7 linked regions of the Homo sapiens genome follow. The protein of the gene in region 5 purifies or fractionates together with the protein of the main gene of each other region. This does not show direct contact. Each region holds a gene or a part of one and is shown on either strand. Other genes may lie near its edges.

Evidence for each region.
Region 1: the proteins of TNFSF18 (region 5) and PEX13 purify together in Homo sapiens (affinity purification with mass spectrometry; one large-scale study listed by BioGRID and IntAct). This does not show direct contact.
Region 2: the proteins of TNFSF18 (region 5) and SCARB1 purify together in Homo sapiens (affinity purification with mass spectrometry; one large-scale study listed by BioGRID and IntAct). This does not show direct contact.
Region 3: the proteins of TNFSF18 (region 5) and TMEM120A purify together in Homo sapiens (affinity purification with mass spectrometry; one large-scale study listed by BioGRID and IntAct). This does not show direct contact.
Region 4: the proteins of TNFSF18 (region 5) and SLC47A1 purify together in Homo sapiens (affinity purification with mass spectrometry; one large-scale study listed by BioGRID and IntAct). This does not show direct contact.
Region 6: the proteins of TNFSF18 (region 5) and S1PR2 purify together in Homo sapiens (affinity purification with mass spectrometry; one large-scale study listed by BioGRID and IntAct). This does not show direct contact.
Region 7: the proteins of TNFSF18 (region 5) and RTN2 purify together in Homo sapiens (affinity purification with mass spectrometry; one large-scale study listed by BioGRID and IntAct). This does not show direct contact.

The regions. Positions count from the first base shown.
Region 1 is NC_000002.12:61,024,031-61,028,107, forward strand, and holds part of PEX13 (peroxisome biogenesis factor 13), read left to right. Parts: intron 1-4,077. UniProt on the Homo sapiens protein: Component of the PEX13-PEX14 docking complex, a translocon channel that specifically mediates the import of peroxisomal cargo proteins bound to PEX5 receptor.
Region 2 is NC_000012.12:124,807,907-124,811,983, forward strand, and holds part of SCARB1 (scavenger receptor class B member 1), read right to left. Parts: intron 4,060-4,077; coding exon 3,964-4,059; intron 2,384-3,963; coding exon 2,268-2,383; intron 22-2,267; coding exon 1-21. UniProt on the Homo sapiens protein: Receptor for different ligands such as phospholipids, cholesterol ester, lipoproteins, phosphatidylserine and apoptotic cells. Receptor for HDL, mediating selective uptake of cholesteryl ether and HDL-dependent cholesterol efflux.
Region 3 is NC_000007.14:75,988,662-75,991,870, forward strand, and holds part of TMEM120A (transmembrane protein 120A), read right to left. Parts: intron 564-3,209; coding exon 504-563; intron 1-503. UniProt on the Homo sapiens protein: Multifunctional protein involved in mechanosensation, and plays an essential role in lipid metabolism and adipocyte differentiation. May function as a potential ion channel involved in sensing mechanical stimuli.
Region 4 is NC_000017.11:19,550,585-19,554,661, reverse strand, and holds part of SLC47A1 (multidrug and toxin extrusion protein 1), read right to left. Parts: intron 3,239-4,077; coding exon 3,194-3,238; intron 1-3,193.
Region 5 is NC_000001.11:173,044,072-173,048,148, forward strand, and holds part of TNFSF18 (tumor necrosis factor ligand superfamily member 18), read right to left. Parts: intron 1-4,077. UniProt on the Homo sapiens protein: Cytokine that binds to TNFRSF18/AITR/GITR. Regulates T-cell responses. Can function as costimulator and lower the threshold for T-cell activation and T-cell proliferation. Important for interactions between activated T-lymphocytes and endothelial cells.
Region 6 is NC_000019.10:10,224,665-10,228,741, forward strand, and holds part of S1PR2 (sphingosine 1-phosphate receptor 2), read right to left. Parts: intron 284-4,077; 5' UTR 242-283; coding exon 1-241. UniProt on the Homo sapiens protein: Receptor for the lysosphingolipid sphingosine 1-phosphate (S1P). S1P is a bioactive lysophospholipid that elicits diverse physiological effects on most types of cells and tissues.
Region 7 is NC_000019.10:45,486,950-45,491,026, reverse strand, and holds part of RTN2 (reticulon-2), read left to right. Parts: intron 1-1,473; coding exon 1,474-1,681; intron 1,682-2,040; coding exon 2,041-2,179; intron 2,180-2,320; coding exon 2,321-2,390; intron 2,391-2,509; coding exon 2,510-2,556; intron 2,557-4,077. UniProt on the Homo sapiens protein: Inhibits amyloid precursor protein processing, probably by blocking BACE1 activity. Enhances trafficking of the glutamate transporter SLC1A1/EAAC1 from the endoplasmic reticulum to the cell surface.

The sequences.
Region 1 (4,077 bases), on a different chromosome or scaffold from region 5:
AAGTGATCTTCCCACCTAGGTCTCCCAAAGTGCTGGGATTACAGGCATGAGCCACCACTCCCTCACCATCTCTGTCTTATTCTTTGCTCCTTTAAAAAGAATCTTACCCCACCCCTGATCTGGTTGCTTTCAATATTTTTTCTCTGTTTTAGTTTTCAGCAGTTTGCTTTGTTAGGCCTCAGTGTGGTCTTCTTTGTATTATCCTGGGTGGAATTCACAGGGATACTTGAATCTGACTTTGATGCCTCTTATTAATTCCAGAAAACTTTAAGCCATTATTTCTTTAAATATGGTTTCTATCTATTGTCACTTTACTCCTTTAACTCAACTTGCATATATACCCCATATGTCACTATACTCCCTGTATCTTACTCTCTTTTCTGTATTTATCCTTCTGTTTCTTATGCTTCATTCTGGGTATTTTCTTCCCATCTCTTTCCTAGTTCACTGATATTTTTCTTTCACTGTGTCTAATCTGGTATTAAACCAGTCATTGAGGCCGGGTGCAGTGGCTCATGCCTGTAATCCCAGCACTTTGGGAGGCCGAGGCGCGTGGATCACGAGGTCAGGAGATCGAGACCATCCTGGCTAACATGGTGAAGCCCCGTCTCTACTGAAAATACAAAAAATTAGCTGGGCGTGGTGGTGGGCGCCTGTAGTCCCAGCTACTCAGGAGGCTGAGGCCGGAGAATGGTATGAACCCAGGAGGCTGAGCTTGCAGTGAGCCGAGATCACGCCACTGCAGTCCAGCCTGGGCAACAGAGTGAGACTCCATCTAAGAACAAAAACAAAAACAAAAAAAACAGTCATTGAGTTCATAATTTCAGGTTTGGTTTGGTGTTGTTTTTAGTTGTAGAATCTTCATTTGGTCCTGCTTTATATTATAGTTCCTATTTTCTTTTGGAAAATCCCAATCTTGCCTTTTTTATTTGAATATATTCAACACAGTTGTTTAAAGTTTCTGCCTAATAAGTCTATAATAACTCTATTATCTAGATCCCCTTTGGAGCTCTTTGTATTATCTGAAGTTTCTTTTTTTGTTTGTTTGTTTTGTTTTTGAGACAGTCTCACTCTGTTGCCCAGGCTGGAGTGCAGTGGCGTGATCTCGGCTCATTGCAACCTCTGCCACCCAGGTTCAAGCAATTCTCCTGCCTGAGCCTCCCCCGTAGCTGGGATTACAGGCACCTGCCACTGCACCCAGCTAATTTTTTATAGTTTTTAATAGAGACGGGGTTTCACCATCTTGGCCAGGCTGGTCTTGAACTCCTGACCTCATGATCCACCCATAATTTTGTTATGTAAGCCCTATCATTATTATTATTATTATCATTATTATTATTATTATTAAGACAGAGTCTTGCTCTGTTGCCCAGGCTGGAGTGCAGTGGTACAATCTCGGCTCACTACAACCCCTGTCACCCAGGTTCGAGTGATTCTTGTGCTTCAGCCACCTGAGTAGCTGGGATTACAGGCATTCGCCACCACACCTGGCTAATTTTTGTATTTTTAGTAGAGACAGGGTTTCGCCATGCTGGACAGGCTGGTCTCAAACTCTTGGATTCAAGTGACCCACCTGCCTCAGCCTCCCAAAGTGCTGGGATTATAGGAGTGAGCCACCATGCCCAGCCAAGCCCGTTTATTTTTTAATGAGAGCTGCACATTGTATATAGACAGTTTAATGTGATTTGAGGCCTAAGGATATCTTTCTCTAAAGACTTTTCCTTTTGACCAGAATGTTAGGCCACTAACAATCTAGAATCACTTTAATCCAATAAAGGATTGAGCTGATTTAAAACTTGGTTTTCATTCCTGCCAGGTAGTCCATTTCCTGTTAACCTTTTCACCCTTTCTACTAGCATATTTCCCTTTTTAAGGTCCCAATCTGAAGTGTGAGGGTTCCCTATGGCTTTCCTCTTTAGGGTTCTGAACTCCAGTTTATGGCTCCTTAGCCCAGGGAGTCTTAAAATCTCTGCCCAGCTTCTCATCCTGTCAACCATCTCTTCTGGAATTGGCCCTGGTTTCTAGAGAAACGCCTGAAAAGATCTGGCTCTCTGGGTTTTTTTTTTCCTCCTTGATTTTGTCTCCAGAATTCTTCGGTGCCTCGTTCTCTAATGCTTTAAACAGAATTCCTTCCTATTTCCTTCCCTTCTAGTTCATTGGGAGGGTTAATCTAATTACCTCGACAACCATTACTTAAAATAGAATTCCCAAGTTCTGTATTTCCATTCTGCTCCTTAGTGTACAGCAGCTAATTTTCTTCTTGACCGGTAGTTGAAAAACGGTTCCAGTGGCTGTGGCCACCTTTTCTTTTTTCTTTTTTTTTTTTTTTTTTGAGACGGAGTCTCACTCTGTCGCCCAGGCCGGAGTGCAGTGGTGCTATCTCGGCTCACCTCAACCTCTGTCCGCTTCCCAGGTTCAAGCAATTCTCTGCCTCAGCCACCCGAGGAGCTGAGATTACAGGCGCCCACCACCACGCGTGGCTAATTTTTGTATTTTTAGTAGAGACAGTATTTCACCATCTTGGCCAGGCTGGTCTTGAACTCCTGACATTGTGATCCACCCACCTCAGCCTCCCAAAGTGCTGGGATTGCAGACATGAGCCACCACGCCTGGCCTGTGGCCACCTTTTCTAAGATTTCTAATGGAATTTTTAAAATATTTAAATGTTTTTATTTAATTTCAATTTTTATTTCACAGATATTATTTCATTTCTCTCTCTGATAATTTTTAACATATCTAAAATCATTCCTGAGCTGTTATATAAAATTAGTTTTTTTAAATTGGGTTTTATACTTGCTGATTTTTGTTGGCTTTGTTTCTTAGTGTTTTTATTTCTTCATGTGTGTGGCATTTTTGAGATGGTCATTTTGAGTAGTAATTTTGGAGTTCTGTTTTCTCTCCTTTCCCTCTTCCATGTTCCCCTCTCTCTATCTAATAGGTGTCCTGTTGCCTCTCCCTGTTCCCTCTACCTACCACTTAGGTAAGAATCAGGTGTAAAAACAGTGGGTCAGACTGGGCATGGTGGCTCACACCTGTAATCTTAGCTCTTTGGGAGGCCAAGGCAGGAGGATTGCTTGAGCCCAGGAGTTGGAAACCAGCCTCTCAAGATGTAGCGAGAACCCATTTCTACAAAAAATATCAAAAAGAAAAAAAAAAAAAAAGGCAGGCATGGTGGTGCACGCCTGTAGTCCCAGCTACTTGGGAAGCTGAGGTGGGAGGGATCGCTTGAGCCTAGGAGTTTGAGGTTGCAGTGAGCCGTGATTGCACCACTGAACTCCAGCTTGGGTGACAGAGTGAGACTCTGTCTCAAAAAAAAAAAAAACAAAACACACACACACACACAAAAACAGCGAGTTAGATTAAGGATATCACACATCAAGTCGGTCAGTTGTTTCATTTCCTGGGCTGGAGGCCTTATCACAGTCCTCTCCCTCTCTTAGTTCTGTAACTTTCTCAAAATATTAAACTGTCATCAGCAAATTTTATAATCTCTTTGTAGGAGTCAAGGTGGCACATCCTCATTCCCAGCCTCAAGCATTGAACTGGTTCCATTTTAATGGAGCACTTTTCGTTTTTGTTACTTCATTGAAGCCTGCATCTTGGCTGTCACTGCCTGATTACAGAACCAGAATTGAGTAGGCCCGTAGCTTCAGCCCTCCTTACCATTTTACATTTCTGTTTAGTTTCTCTTCCATAAGTCTGTCTTGTGTTAAATCTAGATAATGTCTGTTTGTTTGTCTCTCTGTTTTCTCTATTATTGCTTATACTTGGGAGCAGAACTGTTTCATTAAAGCCTGAATGCACTGCACTATCTGGCCGTTCACTGGCTCCTTTTAAGTTTTGTTCCATTTTTAAATATCAGATCCAATAAAAGAAAAAAAAATAGAGTTCTAGTAGCTTGTTTATAATATTACGATACAAGTCTAAATTAAAACTTTAGCCTGGATTAGAAAATTACCATTTTGCAGTTCCACATCTAATATTTGTTTCAGGCAAGGATGATGAATCGATGCTAAACTATCAAATGAACAGTTGCTGAGGAATAGAATATTTGTGGTACAAAACTGTCATCCCATA
Region 2 (4,077 bases), on a different chromosome or scaffold from region 5:
TTGTACATTAGCTTCATGGATCTGCAGGGGACAGACAGGATGAGAGGGGACACCCAGACCCGGCGGCCAGAGCCAGGCCCTGCCAAAGGCTGCCCAGATCCAGCCACTTCTCCCCACGGGCGCTACCACCTCCCGGGTCCAAACCGCCCCCATCTCTCACCCGCGGAGCTGCAGCGACCTCCTAACAGGCCTCTCCGCTCCGACTCTGCCTCCCCACCCACATCAATGTATTAGCCGTGGCCAGATGGAGTTTTACAAAAGAACAGAGGCCAGGCATTATGGCTCACACCTGTAATCCCAGCACTTTGGGAGGCCGAGGTGGGAGGATCACTTGAGCCCAGGAGTGTGAGACCAGCCTGGGGAACATAGTGAGACCCAGTCTCTAAAAATAAAATTGTTTTTGAAAGTTATGAAATTAAAAAAAGAACAGAATATATCATGCCCCTGCTGAAAATCTGTGACCCTTTCTAGTCTAACCTACCATTAGGATTCATTGACCTTATCTAGCCCCTGCATAAGCTCTGCTCAGCCCTGCCCCAACTTCCTGTGCCCAGGGCCTCCCTGCAGTTCCTAAGCACACTCACTCCTGCCCCAGGCCCTTTGCATCACTGCTCCCTCTGCCTAAGAACAGTCTCCTCTGGCATCTTCATCCACCAGACTTCAGCCCTTCAGTCAGATCTCAGTTCAGCTGTCACTTCCTCGGGTGGCAGCACCGTCCCCCACACCCACCCCATCCACCCTCCATCCATTCATGCTCCTGTACTTTCTCAAAAGCACTTCTGAACTTGAACATGCACTGTGCTACCCACTCTGTCCACGGCAGCCACTCAGCACGCATGGCTGTCCATCCCGCCCTTGACATGGGGTGAGTCCAAATTGGGATGCAAGTATAAAATACATTCCAGATTTCTAATACTTGCTAGCAAAAAAAACAAAAAAAAAACCTCATCAATAACACTTGAAATGATCCCATTTTTGATATATGAGGTCAAATAAAATACATTATTAAAAATAATTTCACCAATTTCTTGTTACTTGTATTAATGCAGCCACTAAAAAATTTTAAATTGCATGTGTGCCTTGCATATTTTGATTTATAGGAAAGTGCCAGCTTAGATAACAGTATTATGTCAATGCCAAATTTTCTCATTTTGATAACAGCATTATGGTTATGTAAGAAAATGTCCTCGTTTCTGAAAAACACCCACTGAGTATTTGGAGGTAAGGGGGCATACAGCCTCCAACCTACTCTCCGATGGTTCTGGAAAAAGACACTCGGCGAGAAGAGGGGGTGGGGGGCTTAACACGGCTAGTGAACCTGGGTGAAGGGGAGACGGGGGCCACTTGTATTTCTCATGCAACTTTTCTTTAAGTTTAAAATTCAGCTTTTAAAGTCAGCTGGGTACAGTAGCTCACACCTGCAATCCCAGCACTTTGGGAGGCTGAAGCAGGAAGATCCCTTGAGGCTAGGAGTTCAAGACTAGCCTGGGCAACATAGCGAGATCCCCATCTCTAAAAAATTAAATAAATAAATAAGTAAAAACTTAAAATAGTAAAAAGTGGCCACACAGAGCAAAAGCACTGTCACTCTCTGACACTCTAGTGTTTGTGCATTTGCCTGAGTTGCCCTGATAGGACACAGCCTCCTGGGGAACGGAGACTTGGCCCACCCTCTCACTACCGGGCACCTGGCACACAGTAGGGCTTCACAGGGTTTGCTGGGAGGGCAGATAAGTCAAGGTCCACATGAGTGAATTCCTAAGTAAAGGACTTTTCCAGAGTGACCAGAATGGAACACGACACAGCAAGGCCTCCAGAAAAGGGCTGTAGGAGCCACCCACTGTCTACTCTTACCCCACAACTGGGACCATGGGACACAGAGCTGAGCCTGAAGGGGCCAAGCAGAGCCAGCTGATGTCTCAGCACCCAGATGGTCATGGGGGCCACCAGCCAGACGCCAGAGGGAGCCCACCTCTCGCCTCCATTTTATGGCCCCCTGTGACTTGACATGTCCTGCCCCCTCCTCCCAGCCCAGCACCACCTGGCTGCAAACCACCACCAGCAGCCTCTCTTTGGGCTGTGTAGAGGCATTGGCAGCTGGAGTTTGGCTTTTGGTGGTGTGACCAAAGAGAATTCAAGCTGGTGCCAAGGGCTACTGAGTCAAATCCACGATGAGTCAAAATGCTTTCCAAGTGCACAGCCAACACCACAGAATTTGGCCATGAGCTACCCAGGAAACCCAGGAGGCCCCGAGTCCCAGTGATTACCGGCAGGCCTCCGGGCTGTAGAACTCCAGCGAGGACTCAGGAGTCATGAAGGGCGGCCACATTTGCCCAGAAGTTCCATTGATCATGTTGCACTGATCGGAATGCCAGAAGTCAACCTGGGGGGAAGCATCCAGACTAGACCCCTCAGTAGGGCCAAGGCCCCTTAATAAGCCCTCTCAGGTGCTGCACACCTAACTCACCCTGGTGCACGCACGGCCACTCAATTCCCAATACTGGCACGGTGGGAAGAGGGCAGGCTATGTAGACACACAGAGAGAATGCCTACCACAGCTTCCCCCTCCCAGACCCCTGAATGTGTAACTTCGCTAGGGACTCAGTTCTTTCATCTGCAAAATAGGCCTATCACCCACATTTCCAGCCTGAATCTGGAAAAGAAGTGTGGTGAGCAGGTGAGGTGAGAGGTGGGGCGCGGCTGTGCTCAGCCCTCAGAGCGGAAGTCAACAGGCACCTCCTGAAAACAATCGGCACACAGGCAAACTACTTAAAATCATAATGGTGGCCACCACCGGGCAACCCCAAAACAGAACCTGTCAGGTTAACTGACTCTGGGGAGCGAGACCCAGACTCGACAAAACCAACTGCTCACTTTCCAATCTTCTGTATGATGAGGATGTTTAAAATCACGTGCACATGTACAGTATATTGGAATATACAAGCCACAATGAATGTGAACTCCATCTATCGTGAATGGCTACTGCCAGTTGCAGATGGTGATTTTTGCCACTCTGGGCACCGGTTGGGGTACGATTTGTCCCTAGCCCTCAGGGTCTTTGCAGTAACTACCACGGGGAGTGGGGAGTGGGAAGTCACACAGTCATTTTCACACATATTGAGAAAAGGTCACGAAGGTGAAAAAAGCCAGTTGCAAAACAATGCACGTAGTATGATTTCATGATGTTCAAAGAAGAAACAATTCCGTATTTCTCTGCGTACATATAGGTGTGCACATGGGTAAAAATGGATGGGAAGAATATATCCCAAACTGATAATTGTGGGTTTCCTCTGGGGCAAGGGGTAGGGGTGGGAGGTGATACTAAGGGCACTTATCTCCCTCTCTTGTTTTATTTTGTAATGTGAATCTCTTCTCTTTTTTTTGGAGACCGAGTTTCACTCTTCTCACCCAGGCTGAAGTGAAATTGCGTGATCTCAGCTCACTGCAACCTTCACCTCCTGTGTTCAAGCGATTCTCCTGCCTCAGCTCATGAGTAGCTGGGATTACAGGCATGCAACACCACACCCAGCTAATTTTTTGTATTTTAGTAGAGACAGGGTTTTGCCATGTTGGCCTGGCTGGTCTCGAACTCCTGACCTCAGGTGATCCCCCCCACCTCGGCCTCCCAAAGTGCTGGGATTACAGGCATGAACTACCACGCCCGGCCTTCAAAACATTTTTGTAAGTAAAGAATCGAAAGGAAGAAAGCACTCAGTTCCCAGCAGATGCCAGGTGCTCAGTAAGCTCAGTAAGCAATCACTAACCCCACCTGCCCCTCTGGGTGGTCAAGCTTTAACCAGAGGTAAAATCCCTCCTCCAACTTCAAGAGTGTTCATCCTCCCAGCACCCTCTTCACGACAAAGGAAGAAGGAGCTCTCTGGTCCCTGCCACTCCCGAGCAGCCATGGCCGGGCCCACCCTCCCCTCTCCCTGGCGACAGGGGCCCTCGCCTCTCGCCCCTCACCTTGCTCAGCCCGTTCCACTTGTCCACGAGGTGGATCCTGCTGATGTTCTGGACCCCCGTGAACACCGTGAAGAGCCCAGAGTCGGAGTTGTTGAGCTACAGACACAGCAGGGA
Region 3 (3,209 bases), on a different chromosome or scaffold from region 5:
GGTGGAGGGGAAAACCAGGTTGGGGGGAAAGCCGGGTGGAGGGGTGGAGGGGAAGGCCGGGTGGGGGGCTGGAGGGGAAGGCCAGGTGGGGGGCTGGAGGGGAAGAAGGCCGGGTGGGGGGCTGGAGGGGAAGGCCGGGTGGGGGGGTGGAGGGGAAGGCGGGGAGGGGGTGTGGAGGGGAAGGCGGGGAGGGGGTGTGGAGGGGAAGGCCGGGTGGGTGTGTGGAGGGGAAGGCCGGGTGGGTGTGTGGAGGGGAAGGCCGGGTGGGTGTGTGGAGGGGAAGGCCGGGTGGGGGGGTGGAGGGGAAGGCCGGGTGGGGTGGGGGGTGGAGGGGAAGGCCGGGTGGGGTGGGGGGTGGAGGGGAAGGCCGGGTTGGGGGGTGGAGGGGAAGGCCGGGTTCCGGGGGAAGGCTGGGTGGAGGGGTGGAGGTTGAGGGGGGGAGGGGGGTAGGGGGCTAGGGGTGGAGGGGTGGAGGTTGGGGGGTGGAGGCTCGGCCTGATTACTTAGCCTGCTTGCTCAGGAGCGTGACGTTGACGTTCCCCAGAACCAGGCTCAGGTACAATCTAGGGAAGGGGGTGGCGGGGTGAGGAGAAGCCCGAGTGACAGACAAGCCACCGGTACTCAGCCAAGCCTGCCAGGCCAGAGCCTGGGCCACCACCCCACCCCCTCACCCGCTGCTTTCCGCAGGGCCTTGGCATCGGGTTCTGACCTTGGAGGCTGCAGACCCACTCCCTGCCATGCCCAGCCTTCCTGGCCGCCTGCTCCGGAATCCTGACCCCCGGAGGAAACAGTGTTCCCCCCCATCTCCAGAGTCTTGTCTGAAACTCCCCCACCTCAGGGCACCAAGAGAACCCGGCTCTCCCTCCCTGCTGAGGGCCGTCCCCCTGTCCCCGATTGCTCCCCTGTGCGATGGCCACCACCTACCCCCCAGCTCCCTGCCACCTCCCCTCCAGAACCTGCAGTACTAGGTTCCACTTCAGAGACCCACACGCCTGGCCACATCTAGGACGACCTCCCAAACCAGAACAGAAACTCAGAGCTCTGACTGTGGGCTGACCCCAAGTACTCAGCCTCCCGGGGCGTTTCTTCCCACCACGACCCCCCTTGTCCCTCACCGAGGCCCCCACGCTCTCCAGTCCCAGATCTCATCAGAGCTGGCTGAGTCCCCAGGCCACCCGCCAATTACACCACTTTTTTGCCAATCCCCTTCATGTCCAGCCTCCACACCCACCAACTGAGATCATCTTGCCCTTCTCTGCCAGAGATACTCCAAGAGGTGACAGCAAAGTCACGGTCACTTTCTCAGCACCTGCCCCAGACACATGGGCTCTTGTTCACACTCAAGCCAAACAGACAGAGGCTCAGCATGGTTAGGCAATTTGCCCCAAGGCCACAAAGAACTTCTGGGACAGCCATGCTTCTCCCTCTACAGAATGCTCCCGGCACAGTGCTCCCCAAGCAGGCCAGCTTCAGCCTCCACTGCCAACCCACCAGGCTGCGGATGTGTCCCCACTCAGCTCGCCATCTGGTTCCCAGCACTCGCCTCTCCACATCCTCTCCCCGAAACCCTCTACCCTGTCTCCTCCCACCTCGGGCCCCACCTGCAACACTGCAGAGAAGACAGCCTGACTCCTGCTCTATGGGGAGCACTATGCCAGGAGCACTGTGCCGGGAGCACTCCTCACTCTCATCTCTGCACCCTCCATCCCCCACTAGCCCTTCTCGCTCTCCCCAGGCTTCCCTCCATCACCTCCTGCCCTTCTCCTGGGTCTTTCCCCTCTCGGCCCCTCTTCTCAGCAGGTGGATGTGCTCGAGTCTTCCCAGAGGCAAAGTAACCCCACAAACAGGCAGTAGCTGCCCCTCAACCCAGTGCTAATTTCCAGTTCCTAGTTGCTAATTCTCTCCCTCCACTCACAGCCAAGCTCTAAAAAGTCTCCCAGAGGGCTGGGTGCGGTGGCTCACACCTGTAATCCCAGCACTTTGGGAGGCCGAGGCGGGTGGATCATGAGGTCAGAAGATCGAGACCAGCCTGACCAACATGGTGAAACCCCATCTCTACTAAAAATACAAAATACAAAAATACAAAAATTAGCCGGGTGTGGTGGCGGGCACCTGTAATCCCAGCTACTCCGGAGGCTGAGGCAGGAGAATCGCTTGAACCACGGAGACAGAGGTTGCAGTGAGCCGAGATCAAGTGACTGCACTCCAGCCTAGCGACAGAGTGAGACTCTGTCTCAAAAAAAAAAAAAAAAAAAAAAAGTCTCCTAGACTTGGCTGTCTCCCTTCCTTGGCTCTTCTGTCATCCCCAAGATCGACATCCATCCCCTTCCACCAAATGGTTCTGCCAAGATGACCCAACTTCCAGGAAGCGCATCCCCTTCCTTATCACAGGACTGACCCCAGGCTACGGACACTCCTTTCTTCTCCCTGCCTTCTGGGCCACGCCCTCTCCCAGCTATCTCCCTGCCTGCAGCCTCTGCTGGGATTTTTTGCTCAGCAGGGGGTTTTGCACTGCCCCATCCGTCCTCCTGGGTGACAGCTGCTGGCCTTTCCAGGTGCACATTCCACCGCCCCCGCCCGCCTACTGGGCTCAAGGCAAGAGCTGCAGCCCAGCAAAGCCTCTGATCTCTTGGCTGCCTCTCACCTCCCGCCCCGACCTCTGGCCACTACAAGTTCTCATGGCCCGTCCACCTGCTGCTACCTCTCGCCCTCAGCCCATGTGTCTGCCTCATTTTTTTTATTTATTTACTTATTTATTTTTTAAGACAGAGTCTCACTCTGTTGCCCAGGCTACAGTCCGGTGGTGCGATCTCAGCTCACTGCAGCCTCCGCCTCCCGGGTTCAAGTGATTCTCCTGTCTCAGCCTCCCAAGTAGCTGGGATTACAGGTGCATGCCACAATGCCCGGCTAATTTTTGTATTTTTAGTAGAGATGGGTTTTACCATGTTGCCCAGGCGGGTCTTGAACTCCCGACCTCAAGCGATCTGCCTTGGCTTCCCAAAAAAGTGCTGGGATTACAGGCATGAGCCACCGCGCCCAGCCTATTTGTTCTTTTTAAATAAATAGAGACATAGGGTCTCAGTATGTCACCCAGGCTGGTCTTGAACTCCTGAGTTCAAGTGATCCTCCCACCTCCATCTCCCAGAGTGCTGAGATTACAGGTGAGAGCCACCACGCCCGGCCCACTCTTTATTCTGTAAGACTCAGCC
Region 4 (4,077 bases), on a different chromosome or scaffold from region 5:
GAAGTAAAACTCTGTCCTGCCCCGCATCCGGATAGAATAGCAGACGCAGATAAAGTCAGTGCAAACGTAAAAGGAAACCTCCTTTCTCCCAAGGTCACGCTGTCCCCATAAAGTGTCATTACTCCCCTAGTGGAATGACGAGTGCTTTCTGACTCACTGAGAAACTTTGTTGTCTAAAATCAGACTGTTCAGAAACATTGCTGTTTGAAATCATTTCAGTAAAAAGAAAACACCCCACTCTCGCGTGGAGGCTCAAAATCATGTTAACACAAAAAAGTAGCCTCAATTTCCAACCCAGGCACAGAGCTTCGTGGGAGCTCCTGGATGTGGCATTTTACATCTGTCCACCCTCAACATCCTTCTTAGCCTTGAGTTTCCAAAGGAGGAGCACCAGGTCCACGTCACAGCCCAGGCCTGATGTTGGGCCCCTCACTCACAGATCTGCTCAGCGCCTATCAAACCATGATTTCGCTTAAATGTCACCTGAACCCCACCCTTCTTCAAACCTTTATAATAACTCTTCTTCCTTTGCTGAGGCATCCCACAGCCTCTCTAGTCTCTCTCACTGCGACAGGCCAATAAACACAACTGCAAACCCACTGGCCTACAGTCCTGTCTCTGGTGGTCTCAGGCTGATGGGGCCAGGACAATGGTCTTGGCCGACAACTTGTGTAGGCCACATATTTATGGGGAGGCCCTGGTTAGTTTGTAGCAAGGGAATTAGTGATCAGATTTACTTTTCAGGCAGATGGCAGTGGATGGAGACAGGTTAAGGTCCTCTGAAATGACACAGAGGACAAATGGCAAGAAATGAATTCAGGGCTGGGCACGGTGGGTCACGCCTGTAATCCCAGCACTTTGGGAGGCCAAGGCGAGTGGATCACCTGAGGTCAGGAGTTTGAGACTAGCCTGGCCAACATGGTAAAACCCCATCTCTACTAAAAATACAAAAACTAGCTGGGCGTGGTGGCACGCGCCTGTAGTCCCAGCTACTTGGGAGGCTGAGGCAGGAGAATCGCTTGAACCTCGGAGGTGGAGGTTGCAGTGAGCCGAGGTCACGTCACTGCACTCTAGCCTGGGCAACAGAGACTCCATCTCAAAAAAAAAAAAAAAAAAGGAAGAAAGAAATGAATTCAGGTGGTGGCATGGAGGATTGGGAGGAGGCAGAAGCTATAGGACCAGGTGACTGACCAGATGTGGGAGGGAAGGAAAGATGGAGTCGAGGATGTGACAGGGACAAAAAGGACAGGTTACTGGGAGCAAAAATGGCTGAGGCCACGGAATTCCACCCATTGCGATGGAATGGAAGGCAGAGGAGCAGGCTCGTGGGAGAACGAGAAGAGGTGGCCAAGCCTGCAACACGCATGCGTCTCCATGTCCAGTGGAGTCACCTTCTCCTCCAAAGCCCTCTTGACTCTCCTACTTGAAAGTCTCCCTTCCCCCGATACCATCTGGCTCTGTTCCCACCCTCCACCCTCTCCGAGGGCATTCACTTTCTCCAAACTCCCAGCTGCTTCTCTTTGGTTCTACACTCAGCTAATGGTTGCCCTGTCTTCCTAGGGAAGGGCCCCAGGACAGAAACTCCTTCCACCCTGGGGGCCCAACAACCCCTGCCATTTCTACAGAACCCACCCATCATCGTATCTCCCACTGCTCCCACAACGCAAACTCTTCATCACAGACCTTCACCATTATTTGTTTGGATCATGTCCATAACTCTCCCCTCTTCCTCTCCCAATTAGTTAATTTCCCAAAACTAAATGCCCCAGCAGAGAACACAAGGCCCTGCGCACGCTGACCCTGGGCCAGCCCGCCTCTCGATGCCATCATCTCACTGCATCCCCTCCCACCGCAGTGGCGTAAAGAGACTCTGCGGGCCCCAGCCCCTAGGAACAGGCTCTGCTGCACCTCTGTCTAGGATCCCCTGCCTTCCTTCCCAACCTTGGAAACTCCACGTGTCCTCTGTAACCAAGTTCAAAGCTCCCAACCCCTCTCAGCTCGTGGCTCCTACTTCCATGCCTTTCCCTGTGCCCCAGAGAACAGGAAAGAAGACTTTCACACTCATTGTCCTCAGCAGGTCACATCAGACCCTGAGGTTAGGGCCACCACAGTGGTTGGGGGACTGAGTCCAGGAGAAGGCCTTGCAGGGTGCTAAGGCATCCATGCTGCCTTAGCAAGGGTCTAGATCAAAAGGAGACAGCCCAAAGCCGGATGAAATGTGTGGGTTTCCTTCTCTCTAGTCTACACCTATTTCTGATATGTCATTCTATGCTAATCGGGATTCTAAATATTCTTGTTTTGTTGATAGAGTAATATCCTGGCCGGATGCAGTGGCTCACACCTGTAAGTCCAGCACTTTTGGAGACTGAGGCAGGAGGATTGCTTGAGGCCAGAAGTTTGAAACCAGCCTGGGCAACATAGCAAGACCCCATATCTACTTTAAAAATTTTGTTCTAATAGAGGAATATCTTAACTTTAAGAACACTGCATAGGTGGGAAACTTCCTTTCTTCCTCCTCCCCTCCTGGCCCTTCCTGTTGCACATGCCTGGAGAGCCCGCCAGTGTGGCCGGGATCCATTGCCGAGTACCCCTGTTTACCTGGACTTATCTGGAAGAATGTAGAGAGTCCCACATATGCTGATTTCATAAATCCACCCCTACCAAGCCATGGCCTTTGGCCCTGACTGTTTAATCACAGAGGAGGAGTTCTGGCTGACGTTAGGTGTCATTAGAGTTTGAGCTCTTACATCCTCAATGAGAAAAGTGGGGCCATTCCGACAGAACAGAGCAGACAGTTTGGTTCCCTCTCTGCCAGACGAGCTGCCCCCAGCCTGCGCTCTGTCTTAGGAGCAAATGGGCATGCACCCTTCTTTCCAGGACGCTGGTTAAAATGCAGAGCCAAGGAACACTGCGGCTCTGAGCCCACCCTGCCAATGACAATATTTCCAAGTGGGAATTGGATAAGAGTTTTCCAGAGCCAAATATAATATGTTCTTTCCTTGACATCACTTAACAAACCTCTTGACATCCAAGTTCTGTGTGCACAACACTGAAAAAATATCTTTCAGTGGCTCCCAGCAGTGAGCTCCCTCCACCCTGGGGTCCCTGGTCCTGGAGTATCTTCAGGGCCCCCATTCCCAGAAAGGTACAAACTCCCATTAGCCTCCCAAAGGAAGAGAACAGTCAGTATTACCTGGTTGAGCAAATATTTAACTTGTAACATATAAAGAAAGGTTGCCTACAAGAGAACAAGAGAGATGAATGTTAATGTTTCAGCCTTGCCACACAGAAGTGAGGTCACACGGCAGGGAGCTAGGAGCCACAGCCAAGGTTCGGCTGCCCTCTGCTCCCGCACGGAGCCACAGAGGCTGTCGTCTCAGGACAGGGCTGGGGCCAGGGTGTTATGGCCCAGGGGCTTCCCACATCTTCTTTATGGGTGCATATGCCCCAAGCATATTCCCTCCATCTGGCAAAAGGAGGTGGAGTTTCCCTGGGTGAATGGCCAGGACTCTTCTGGGGACACTGGCATGGAAAGGAGGCCCCAGGCACACTCCAGATGGGCACCTCCATATAGACTGGTCCTATGTGGTGGAATCATGAAAGACTGTCACATTTACAAGGTTTCAGGATAAGTAAGCGAGCACACTGCCAATTCTGAGGGCAAATGGTGTCCCTAGATCCGTATGTTGAAGCCCTAGTCCCCAGTGTGACTATTTGGAGGTCCTCAAGGGGAGATTAAATTAAAATGAGGTCATTAGGGTGGGGCCCTAATCCAATAGGACTCGTGTCCTCATAAGAAGACAGGGGATACCGGGGGATGAATGCACAGGGGACAACCTGCAGAGGGTGGCCGTCCACAGGCCAAGGAGAGAGGCCGCAGAGGACACCAACCCTGCTGCACCTTGACCTTGGACTTCCAGCTTCCTGAACTGTAAGAAAATAAACTTCTGTTGTTTAAGCTCCCTAGTGTGTGGTATTATATTACGGAAGCCCCTGCAGACTAATTCAGCTACAGCCTCCAGCTGAATAACAAACACTTAGCTCTCAGGCCAGGTGTGGTGGCTCACACATGCAACC
Region 5 (4,077 bases):
TCTATAACCATAAAAAAAATCCTTCCCTTCACCATGTCTCAGCCCTCTCAGCCTCCCTTTAAAGTTGAGTGGCTCCATCCTTTACCTTTTATTACCTAGCTTCCCTTTTAGGTCTTTTAGACAAAGGTCAAGATCTCATTCCATTACCTAATCTATACCTACAGGACAACTATTTGATATCGGACCCCCCCCCCAACCTTGGGCTCTAAAAGTTTTTCAACAAAATAGCAGTTTCCACACCCCAGTGACTGCACAAGGTGATCTGTTGGCATGTGAAAGGAAAATAGTGAAGCTTCTATTTATGTTTATTTTATTTAAAACAGTAAATTAAGCCCTAGAAATATTTACAACTCAGATTGATGAAACCACCCATGTATAATATTCAGATAACTACATGTCATATACAGTATCTGAGATACCCTGAAAAACAGTTCCAAGTTTCAGACTACTGCAATGTACGGCAGTTCACATGCTACAAGATGCCATCAGTGTGTGGTTAATTTTACAAACACAAGTAGTTAATGCTAAATGCTCAAAAATACGTTGTAGTAAATTCAGGCATAACCACAAACATTTTTTGTATCACCCAAAGGTTATTGGTTTCCTAATGGCAAAGTGCTTAAAAGACTTTTTGAACTTAAACGTGTTGCACACTTTCCTTTTGTAGGATTTCTCTGGCTGCTATGCTAGGAACAAATTAAACAGAGGCAAGGGCAAATGTAGTGAGACTAGCTAAGAGATCATTACAGTCATTCATCTAGGCAAGAGAGCATGGTGTCTCTGACCAAGGTGCTAGCTCTGTAGATGGTGATACTTGGTTGGAAAATAGAGCCAACAGAAGTTCCTGACATGGATATGGGGTAGGGAATGAGAAGAAACAAAGATGACTCCAGTATTTTAGGCCTGCATAATTGGAAAGATAAAGTTGTTATTCACTAAAATGGATAAGATGTAAGAGGAATAAATGGGGAGGGGAACAATGATGAGTTTGGTTGTGGACATATTAGTTTGTGATGCTTATTATAAATCCAAGTAAGTGTGTCAAGCAGGCTGAAATTTAAGGAGCTCTGGTGATATACATTTAAGAGTCTTAAGCTCATAGTTGATGTTTTAAGCTGTGAGATTGTATGAGGCCATCATGTTAGTGGGTGTAGATGGAGAGGAACACTGGGGCGTTGTGATGTTTAGAGGTCGGAGAATGAGAAAGAACAAGCAAGGGACAATAGAAAGGAAAAGCTGAGTCTGAAAGGAAACTAGGAGAGTCTGATGTTTGGAAGCCAAGAAAAGAAAGTATTTCATGAAGGACGAGTGATCAGCTGGTGTCAAATGCTGTTGATAGATCAAGTAAGAAGAGTACAGTGAATTGACTGATAGATTGAGCAACATGGTAGTCACTGGAGTTCTTGACAAAATTAGTTTCTGTGATATGTGAAGAGGGCAGAAGCTTAGTTAAAATAAATTTAAGGGTAAATGGGACAAGAGAAGTTGGAGGAATTTTGCTGTAGGGAGAGCAGAAAAAAATGAGTGGAGTTTGGATGAGGATGAGAGATCAAAGAGGTTTTTTGTTGTTGTTGTTGTTGTTGTTGTTGTTACGTTTTAATGTGAGAGAAATGACAACACGTTTTTCTATTTCCATTTGATGGAAATGTTTCTGTAAAATGGATGAGGCATAATATGTAAGAGCGAGGAGAGAACTGTTGCAGCAATGTCCCTGAGTAGGCAAGAGAGGATAAGATTTAGTTCATAGATGGCTTGGATAGATGCATGGACAATTTATCCATAGTGACAAGACAGAATAACAGTATACCTGGACACAAATGCCAATGAGTTGTTGATATTGGAACTTCTTTCCTCCGTACTTCTATTTTCTCTTAAAATATGGAGGCAACGTTATCAGTGGAGAGTGAGAATGGGGAAGAGTTATTAGATGTTTGAAGAGAAGCTAAAGGTATGAAATCATCCAGTAGAGGAGAGTGAATGGACTGGGGAAACATGGGCTGTTTCCAGAGCAACAATGAAATCCACTTGAAGGCAGTGGCTGTGAATTTAAAGTAAGACCTTTCAAAAAATTTTATGTTTTTCTTCAGATATATTCAACAGTGAAAGAGACAGAGCAGTTGGATTTAATCAGCATTGGAGGTTTTCCATAGTCGAGCTTTTGTCATTAGAGTATAATGAAGATAGAGAGAAGCAAGTGAGTGAGTTTATGCGAGGGAGGTGTTAAAGCTATAGATCTTGGAATTTAGTTGTGGAAGGAAGGAAAGAGAGGCATCCATCATTGAATGATGGATTGAAAATTAAGTGGTATGACATGATAAGAATATCCAAAGATGTGTTCTTCCATTTTAATCTATATTTGTTTGTCGGGTAATTTTTCAGTCATGATGGTCAAAATCATGAAACAAGGTAAATTAACATATCAAACTTCAAATTGCTGTATCACATAGTGTTAAGCTCAGATTAAAAAATAAAATAAATGCATTCACCACGTTATTAAAATATTTTACTTATTTTAGTAATGTTTATGACATATTAATGATTATAGAAAATATAACATTTTGGTGAAAGCAAAATGGTTTTGCATTGTGAGAGTTACATTGAATATATTATTTGGCTCACCCTTATAAATATATATTTTGTGTATCTCTTTAGTGTACATATTATTAGTACTTGTATATAGTATAATAATTAGCATACAAATGTTGGGAATTATACTGATAATATGTTATTGAAAGGGAGGTGCAATTAAAAAGTCTGAAAGCCACTATTCTAGGAAATAAATTTTTTGATTCCCTACACTTGTTTTTTTTTGTTGTTGTTGTTGTTGTTGTTGTTTTTTGAGACAGGGTCTCATTCCGTTGCCCAGGCTGGAGTGCAGTGGTGTTATCTCAGTTCACTACAGCCTCATCCTCCTGGACTCAACCAATTCTCCCACGTCAGCCCCCTGAGTAGCTGGGACTACAGGTGCATGCCACCAAGCCCAGCTATTTTTTTTGTATTTTTTTGTAGAGACAGGGTTTTGCCATGTTGCCCAGGCTGGTCTCAAACTCTTGACCTCAAGCAATCTACCCGCCTCAGCCTCCCAAAGTGCTGGGATTATAGGCGTGAGCCACTGTGCCTGGCCTCTTGCAATTATTTCATCCTCATTTTGGTGTTTCCTGGAGGAGATGTTGAAATTCAATTTAGTTCAACCCATGATAGGGACGTGACAAAGACTCCCTTAACCCCAATTTCCTCATCTATAAAATGGGAGAAATAATAGCACCTAGCTTGTTGAAGTTGTTGGGGTTAAATGAGGTCGTTTTTAATAAGGGCTTTGCCTAGATATCCTGCCTGGACCTGTTCAATAAATATTAGCTGTTTGGGTGATGATGGTGATTGTAATGAAGAATTGAACTACAATTTAAGCATCCATATTTCCAACATTGTACAGCATTGTAAGCATGAGAAACAAATGTAATTTTTGGTCCTTGCTTCTCAAGAAGTTTATAATCTTTCTAGAAAGACATGATTACACACCCAAAGCAATTTGGTAACAATCTAAATATGAATGAGTGCCAAAATACGTGCCACAGATAGTATCTGCACCATCTACTAGCATGTATGAGATGTGCTCAGAGAAACCTAAGCTATAGACAACCTAAGTCCAAACTAATTTCCAGAGTCAGAAATTCCGTATAATATACTGCAGGCTGCTTTATGTCTATTTAGCGCTACAGAGACCATCACTGTGATACTCTCTAATTATTGCCACCACTAAAAATCCATCTAATTGCAAAATCATAAATTTGGCTCTGAGATATAGTGTTTGATTGAGAGAGTGATATAGGTAGGCAAAGACTATCCATATTGTTAAATGGTCTTGTTAAATTTTTGCCCATTATTATCTCATTAATAGTAATGGGGCAAATATTAATCACTCCCCTCTACTGGGAGCTACTTTATGTCAGATACTCTACTGTCTCATTAATCCTTAGCACAACTCTACAAAAATTAGGTTGCTCATTTTGCAGATGAGGAAATGAGGATGAGAGGGATTAAGTAACTAGCCTAAGGTCATGCAGCCAATAAAAGGCA
Region 6 (4,077 bases), on a different chromosome or scaffold from region 5:
GTAGATCGGAGGCGGCCAGGTTGCCCAGAAACAGGTACATTGCCGAGTGGAACTTGCTGTTTCGGGCCACCGCAATGAGCACCAGAAGGTTTTCCACCACAATGGCGCAACAGAGGATGACGATGAAGGCCGAGGCCACCTGGCGGGAGGTCGTCTCCTGCGTTTCCAGCGTCTCCTTGGTATAATTATAGTGTTCCTGGACCTTGTTGGGGTTCAGGTACTCCGAGTACAAGCTGCCCATGGTGGGGCTCAGAGGCCTGCTGGGGCCATGGGGCTTTCAGAACTGCAGAGAAGACAGACAGACAGACAGACAATAGGTCAGAGCTGTGGCTGCTACCTGGGCTCTGGCCTCGGATGGGCTGAGATTCAATTTCCTGCTCTGTTACTCTTCGAGGAAGGGCCACATGAATTCAGAATCATCATCATCCCCACTTACAGACGGGAAACCCAGAGAGATTAATTCACTTTCCTAAAGTCTCAAATTTAACCAGCGGCAGGGCCAGAGAGACTGGCTCTGCGGCCTCTATAAGCCCTAGGCTACGCTCTTTCTTATTTATTTTATTTATCTATATTTTAAAGACAAGGTCTTGCTCTGTCATTCAGGCTGGAGTGCAGTGGCGCAATCATAGCTCCCTGCAGCCTTGAACTCCTGGGCTCAAGTGATCCTCCCACCTCAGCCTCCCACCTCAGCTTCAGCTACAAGCACATGCCACCACGCCTGGCTAATTTTTTTTTTTTTTTTTTTTTTTTGAGATGGAGTCTCCCTCTGTTGCCAAGGCTGGAGTGCTGCGGCACGGTCTTGGCTCACTGCAACCTCCTCCTCCTGGGTTCAAGTGATTCTCCTGCCTCAGCTTCCTGAGTAGCTGGGATTACGGGCACCTGCCACCAGGCCCAGCTAATTTTTTTTTTATTTTTAGTAGAGACAGGGTTTCACCATGTTGGCCAGCATGGTCTCGAACTTCTGACCTCATGATCCGCCTGCCTCGGCCTCTCAAAGCGCTGGGATTACCAGTGTGAGCCACCGGGCCCAGCCGCCTGGCTAGTTTTTTTGTTTTTTAGAGATTGGGTCTCACTGTGTTGTCCAGGCTGGTCCTGAACTCCTGGCTTCAAGCAATTCTCCTCGGCCTCTCAAAGCAATGAGATTACAGGTATGAACCATGACATCTTGCCTCTTTTAATTTTCATTATTATTTTCTAGAGATAGGGTCTTGCTCTGTCACCCAGGCTGGAGTGCAGTGGCATGATCATAGCTCACAGTTGTCTCTACTCCTGGGCTCAAGTGATCCTCCTGCCTCAGTCTCCTGAGTAGCTACACGCTTTCAAAGGGAAAGAAGCTCCCCCAAATGGCATGAAAAATATAATGTGGACTTCCAGAAACCTTGCCCACCTACCCAGAGAGCAAGCCCTAGGCAGGTCCTGGAGGGTTTGTCTCTTTTCTGGAACACACAGGCGCCTGCGCCCTCATGCTGACCTGGGTCAGGGAGAGTCTCACCACTGATAGCTCCGTGCCCTGCTCATTCATTACCACCCACTAACGCTGGATTTCAGGCTGGGTCTAAGCCTTGAGGCCACGGGTGCTCCCAAGATAAGGTCTTGGGGAGACACCAGGGCGGCCCTGAGATTCAAACATCCCAGAGGTCACACCATCTTCAAGGACACAGACCTTGAAGGCAATCCAGAATTTGCTCCCATTCCACCTCTGAAACACTGGGCAAGTCCCTAGACGCTGTCTCAGCCTGAACCTCCTTATCTGTGCAATAGAGAGAAGAAAGCCCACTTCATGGGGGTGATGGGAAAATCCTTTTAAATGACGCATGAGGCACGTTTAGCTCATAGTAAGCACTCAACAAATACTGCCAAATGTTATTAGCTCCCCTCTTTCCTCCAGTCCTTTGGGAAGGGAAGGGATGTAAGCCAACCAGACGAGATCTCCAACAGCCTGTTCTCATCAGCACCATCTAGCTCTGCCCTGGGACAGAAGGTCCTGCCGGGATGGGCAGGGCGCTGGCACCCCCTCCCCAGCCAGGATGAAATCCAGATGTGAGGCCCCTGGAACAAACAGGGTGGAGTCCTCACTCTGCAGTCACATCCGGTGTGAGGAAGGCGGGATGTAGGGGGAGTCAGGATGGGAGAGACCCCATCTGGGAGGTCCTGGCTGGGAGGATGGGGCAGCTTTGCTGAAGTCATGTGAGCCGTGAAGGGGTGTGCAGCCCCGCCGGGAGGGGGTAAGGCATTTGTTCCATGAAAACCTGAGTCACCCCCCCAACCCCCTCCCATCCCTCCCCTCCACCCTCTTCCATCCCTCCCTCTACCCCCTCCCATCCCCCCCCATCGCCACCCACCAAGGAAAACTGAGCCGTGGTGGGAGGGGGCGGGGAGAGGCGCTCCTCGGCAGAGAGGATGAGAGGCAGACACCATGGCCTTCCCCCAGCTTGGGGGTAGGGTTAGGGGTTGTCAGAGGCGCCAGTGCAGTGTATGCCTTTCATGAAGGGAGAGGAAGTTCCAGCCTTAGCTAAATGGGAGGGAGGGGGGAGAGTAGGGGGAGTCCTCCTCAGGTCCCTAGAAACACGTCTGGCAAGGACTGTGTGCACCGTTCCAGAAAAGTCTGGTTAGGCCAGTTCTCCTGAGCCCAGGAGTGATGGAGGTTTCCGGAGTCACCCAGCCATCTCAGTCCCTGGCCGCCCCCTCCAAGGGGCATCCTGGCCCCTGGCTGGATAGAGGCAGCTGCTCCCCCAGGGCGGAGGGACATCCGTCCTAGTTTGGGAACAGACAAGGGCTTGTGCACGTCCCCGGGGACTGCTGCCCCTCCCAGATAGCCACACAGAGGCCCCTTGTTCCCTTGCTGGACGCAGCCCCGGGCATCTTGATGCCCTCTGCACGCTGCAGCCAGTCCCAGGCAGGCTTGGGCCCAGGCTGCGGCTGGATCAGACACAGCTGATGGGCCGGAAACAGCCCATGCTCTGATTGGCTCATTTTCAATCCAAGGGCACTGAGCAATTTGCCTATTGGCCCGGGCTTTCCATCTTCTGCCTCTGATTGGTCCAGTTGGGGGCGCTCTACGGCCAGCCCTACCGATGGGGTCCTTTATAGGCGACGGGAGCTCAGGCTTTCTGAGGATAGAGTTAATGCTATGTGGACGTCCCTAGGGGGAGTTTGAACCGCAGCCTGACCTCTGGGTCACCCCGACCAGACACCCCCAGGCTGCCCTGGCCTGCTGGGCCCCTCCTGGGGTTCATAAGTGAGAATCAAGGTCCCTTTCCAGGCCTGGGGAGCACGCTGTGCAGTGCAGCCGCCCCCTCTGCTGCTCACCAAGAGATTTGCTGTGGCTTCCTGGATAAATAAGAAATGTGTTTAGGCCGGGCGCAGTGGCTCATGCCTGTAATCCCAGCACTCTGGGAAGCCGAGGCGGGCCTATCACCTGAGATCATGAGTTCAAGACCAGCCTGGCCAACATGGTAAAACCCCCCTCTACTCAAAAAAAAAAAAAAAAAAAAAAAATTAGCCGGGCATGGTGGTGTGCGCCTGTGATCCCAGCTACTTGGGAGACTGAAGCAGGAGAATCGCTTGAACCCGGGAGGCAGAGGTTGCAGTGAGCCAAGATCGCAGCCATTGCACTCCAGCCTGGGTGACAGAGCGAGACTGTCTCAAAACAAAACAAAACAAAACAAAACAAAATGAAATGTGTTCAGCCCTTGCACCCCAGGGACTAACTAAGCAGTCTGTCTTTTTCCCTGAGAGGAAGACTGGGGGTGCTGCACTCTCACCTTCTGCAGCCCGGGGAGGCTAAGGCATTCACAGAGGGAGAAGCAGCTCTCCTAGAGAAGGGGAAACTGAGGCCCACATTCTATCCAAGACTCATCTTAACCACTAGGACTTTACTGAGGCAAGCACTTGGGCGGTTGACGCCTCCCAGAAAGAGGAAGCAGGGCACTGAGGTTGGAGCTGGCAGAAGAGTCACCCCCTAGGTGGATGGCGTGGCCTAGCCCATGTCCCCTCCCTGTGTAAGGTTACCAGGTTTTGAGAAGGACACAGAGCCTGTCTCCCGGTCACCTTCACCAAGTCTGCCCTGACTCCCTC
Region 7 (4,077 bases), on a different chromosome or scaffold from region 5:
TAATCCCAGCTACTCGGGAGGCTGAGGCAGGAGAATCGCTTGAACCCGGGAGGTGGAGGTTGCAGTGAGCCGAGATTGCACAATTGCACTCCAGCCTGGGCAACAAGAGCGAAACTCTGTCTCAAAAAAAAAAACAAACAAACAAACCAAGGTCAGGCGTGGTGTCTCACGCTTGTAATCCCAACACTTTGGGAGGCCGAGGTGGGAGGATTACTTGAGGTCAGGAGTTCGAGACCAGCCTGGCCAACATGGTGAAACCCCATCTCTACCAAAATATAAAAAATTAGCCGGGTGTGGTGGAGCCCTCCTGTAATCTCAGCTACTCAGGAGGCTGAGGCAGGAGAATTGCTTGAACCCAGGAAGCGGAGGTTGCAGTGAGCCAAGATTGTGCCATTGCACTCCAGCCTAGGCAATAGAGCGAGAATCCGTCTCAAAAAAAATAAAAACAAAAACAAAACACACACACACACACACACACACACACACACACAGACACACAACCAGTCCACCCAGCAATTCCACCCTGGGAATCTGTCTCAGAAATAGTCACTCCAGGAGGTGAGAATATCTGTTGGAGGATGTTGCTTGCAGCCCTGCTTGCGGTGAAGGGGTTAGGAAACAAACTGAATGACCCAGCAATAGGTACATGGTTAAATAAAATGAATGAGAGCACAGGAGCACAGCCACAACACAGAATACTATGCAGCTCTTTAAAATAATGAATTAAGGCCAGGCGCGGTAGCACATGCCTGTAATCCCAGCACTTTGGGAGGCCAAGGCGGGTGGACCACGAGGTCAGGAGTTCGAGACCAGCCTGACCAACATGGTGAAACCCCGTCTCTACTAAAAATACAAAAATTAGCCGGGAATGGTGGCACATGCCTGTAATCCCAGCTACTTAGAAGGCTGAGGCAGGAGAATCGCTTGAACCAGGGAGGCGGAGGTTGCAGTGAGTCGTGATTGCGCCACTGCACTCCAGCCTGGGCAATAGAGAAAAAAATAAAAATAAAATAAAATAATTTTTAAAAAATTGCAAATCGGGCTGTGTGCTGTGCCTCACACGTATAATCCCAGCACTTTGGAGGGCTGATGCAGGAGGATAACTTGAGGCCAGGAGTTCGAGACTAGCCTGGGCAACACAGTGAGAGCCACCTACCTCTAAAAACAGAAACAAAAACAAAAATTAGCTGAGTGGTGGTGCACACCTGTAGTCCCAGCTACTGAGGAGGCTGACGTGGGAGGATCACTTGAGCCCAGGAGATCGAGGCTGCAGTGAGCTATGATTGCACCACTGCCTCCAGCCTGGGTGACAGAGTGAGACCCTGTCTCTCAAAAAAAAAAAAAAAAAAAGGAAATCAGGTTATGCTCAAACAGGTGTGTCGAGAAGTCATTTTCAGCTGTAGGACAGGGAAAGGGAGGTGAGGAGACCAGCCAGGTCAGGTACAAGCCCTGATGCCCCCCACCCCTCCACAGTGGCGGACCTGCTGTACTGGAAGGACACGAGGACGTCAGGAGTGGTCTTCACAGGCCTGATGGTCTCCCTCCTCTGCCTCCTGCACTTTAGCATCGTGTCCGTGGCCGCGCACTTGGCTCTGTTGCTGCTCTGCGGCACCATCTCTCTCAGGGTTTACCGCAAAGTGCTGCAGGCCGTGCACCGGGGGGATGGAGCCAACCCTTTCCAGTGAGAACCCCCGGCCCCTGACCTGAGCCCCTGTCCTGACCCTAAAGCATGACCCACGACCTCAAATCAGGCACCGACTCCCACCCGGACCCCGACTCATCTTGATCATTTTTCATCCCGATCCCCTAACCTACCCTTCAATCCTAATCTCTGATCCTAACCTGGTACCCTTCATCCTCGATCCCTTCCCCTGACCCTGACCCTGACCCCAGCCCTCTACATATGATTCCTCTGAGCTGCCCCTCAGTCCTAACTCTGGTCTTCTCCCAACCGCCATTCCTCTCCCTTGTTTCAGCTGCCCCTGCACCAGTCTGAGCTGGTCACCCACTGAGTCGCCCCACACTCCTTTGTCCCCGCAGGGCCTACCTGGATGTGGACCTCACCCTGACTCGGGAGCAGACGGAACGTTTGTCCCACCAGATCACCTCCCGCGTGGTCTCGGCGGCCACGCAGCTGCGGCACTTCTTCCTGGTAGAAGACCTCGTGGATTCCCTCAAGGTGGCCTGGAGCTCTCAGCCCCTCCTGGGTTCCCCCATTCACCTCTGCATGGCTAGGGGGTGGGAGGGCGACTGTTGGGTAAATTCACAGCATGAGAGGGAATTCCCGGTGGGCTCTGCTGACCCTGACCTTCACCCCCAGCTGGCCCTCCTCTTCTACATCTTGACCTTCGTGGGTGCCATCTTCAATGGTTTGACTCTTCTCATTCTGGGTGAGCTGGGAAGGCCGTAAGGGGCAAATGGGGACTTGGAGTCTGGTGGGGGACAGGGCTCCAGATGGAACTGTTCATCTCTTGGGAACACCCTGACGCCCCCATCTCTGTACCCACAGGAGTGATTGGTCTATTCACCATCCCCCTGCTGTACCGGCAGCACCAGGTGAGTGTGACACCCTCAGTTGTCAGCACCCCAGCTAAACATGGGGGTCTGACCATCTCCTTCCAGAACCGGGGTCCCATTGACAGATGTCCCGGCCAGACACAGGTGTCCTGGCTGCAGCACCTTCCCAATACAACCAGAGTCTAAGTAACATGTCTTATCAGCATCAGCCAGGGACAGGCTTTTTGTTTGTTTTTGTTTTGTTTTGGGTTTTCTTTGAGACAGAGTCTTGCTCTGTTGCCCAGGCTGGAGTGCAGTGGTGTGATCTCGGCTCACTGCAACCTCCGTTTCCTGGGCTCAAGCAAGTCTCCTGCCTCAATCTCTGAGTAGCTGGGATTACAGGCATATGGCCACCGTGCCCGGCTAATTTTTGTATTTTTAGCAGAGACGGAGTTTTGCCATGCTGGCCAGGCTGGTCTCAAACTCCTAACCTCAAGTGATCTGCCCACCTTGGCCTCCCAAAGTGCTGGGATTACAGGCGTGAGCCACTGTGCCTAGCCTTTGCTGCCTTTTTTTTTTTTTTTTTTTGAGATGGAGTCTCGCTCTGTTGCCCAGACTGGAGTGCAGTGGCACGATCTTGGCTCACTGCAGCCTCTGCCTCCCAGGTTCAAGCGATTCTCCTGCCTCAGCTTCCCGAGTAGCTGGGATCACAGGTGCCTGCCACCATGCCTGGCTAATTTTTTGTATTTTTAGTAGAGACCGGGTTTCACCATGCTGGCCAGGCTGGTCTCCAACTCCCGACCTCAGGTGATCTGCCCGCGTTGGCCTCCCAAAGTGCTGAGATTGGCCTTCACTCTTGATTTTAACTGACATGTCAGTTAAATGCTACTGCATTCCAGCCTGGGTGACAGAGCAAGAGTCTGTCTCAAAAAAAAAAAAAAAAAAAACCAAAAAATAAAAAATAAAAACATAAAAATAAAATCAAGAGTGGGATGGCTGTTGCCCACAAGACTGACATTAGCAGGACTGCTGACATCCATCCTATCCAGAGACAGGCGGATGGACTGACAGCCCCTTCTCCAGCACAGCTGGGAGCCACATGATAATATGCCCTGCCAGTTAGTCCTAACTCTGTCCTTCACAGGCTGGAATCACCAAGACTCACAATTAAACTGTATTTAAATCAGGCCAGGCACAGTGGCTCACAACTGTAATCCCGGCACTTTGGGAGGTTGAGACAGGAGAATTGCTTGAGGCCAGAAGTTCAAGACCAGCCTCGGCAACATAGTAAGACCCCCATCTCTACAAAAAGGTTAAAAACTAGCCAGGTGTGGTGGCACACACCTATAGTCCCAGTTACTCTGAAAGCTGAAGCAAGAGGATGAGTTGAACCCTAGGAGGTAGAGGCTGCAGTGAGCTGTGATCATGCCACTGCACTCCAGCCTGGGCAACAGAGCAAGACCCTATCTAAAAAAAAAAAAAAAAAAAAAAAAAAAAAGGCTGGGCATGGTGGCTCACGCTTGTGATCCCAGCTTTGGGAGGCTGAGGCAGGCGGATCACTTGAGGTCAGGAGTTCGAGAC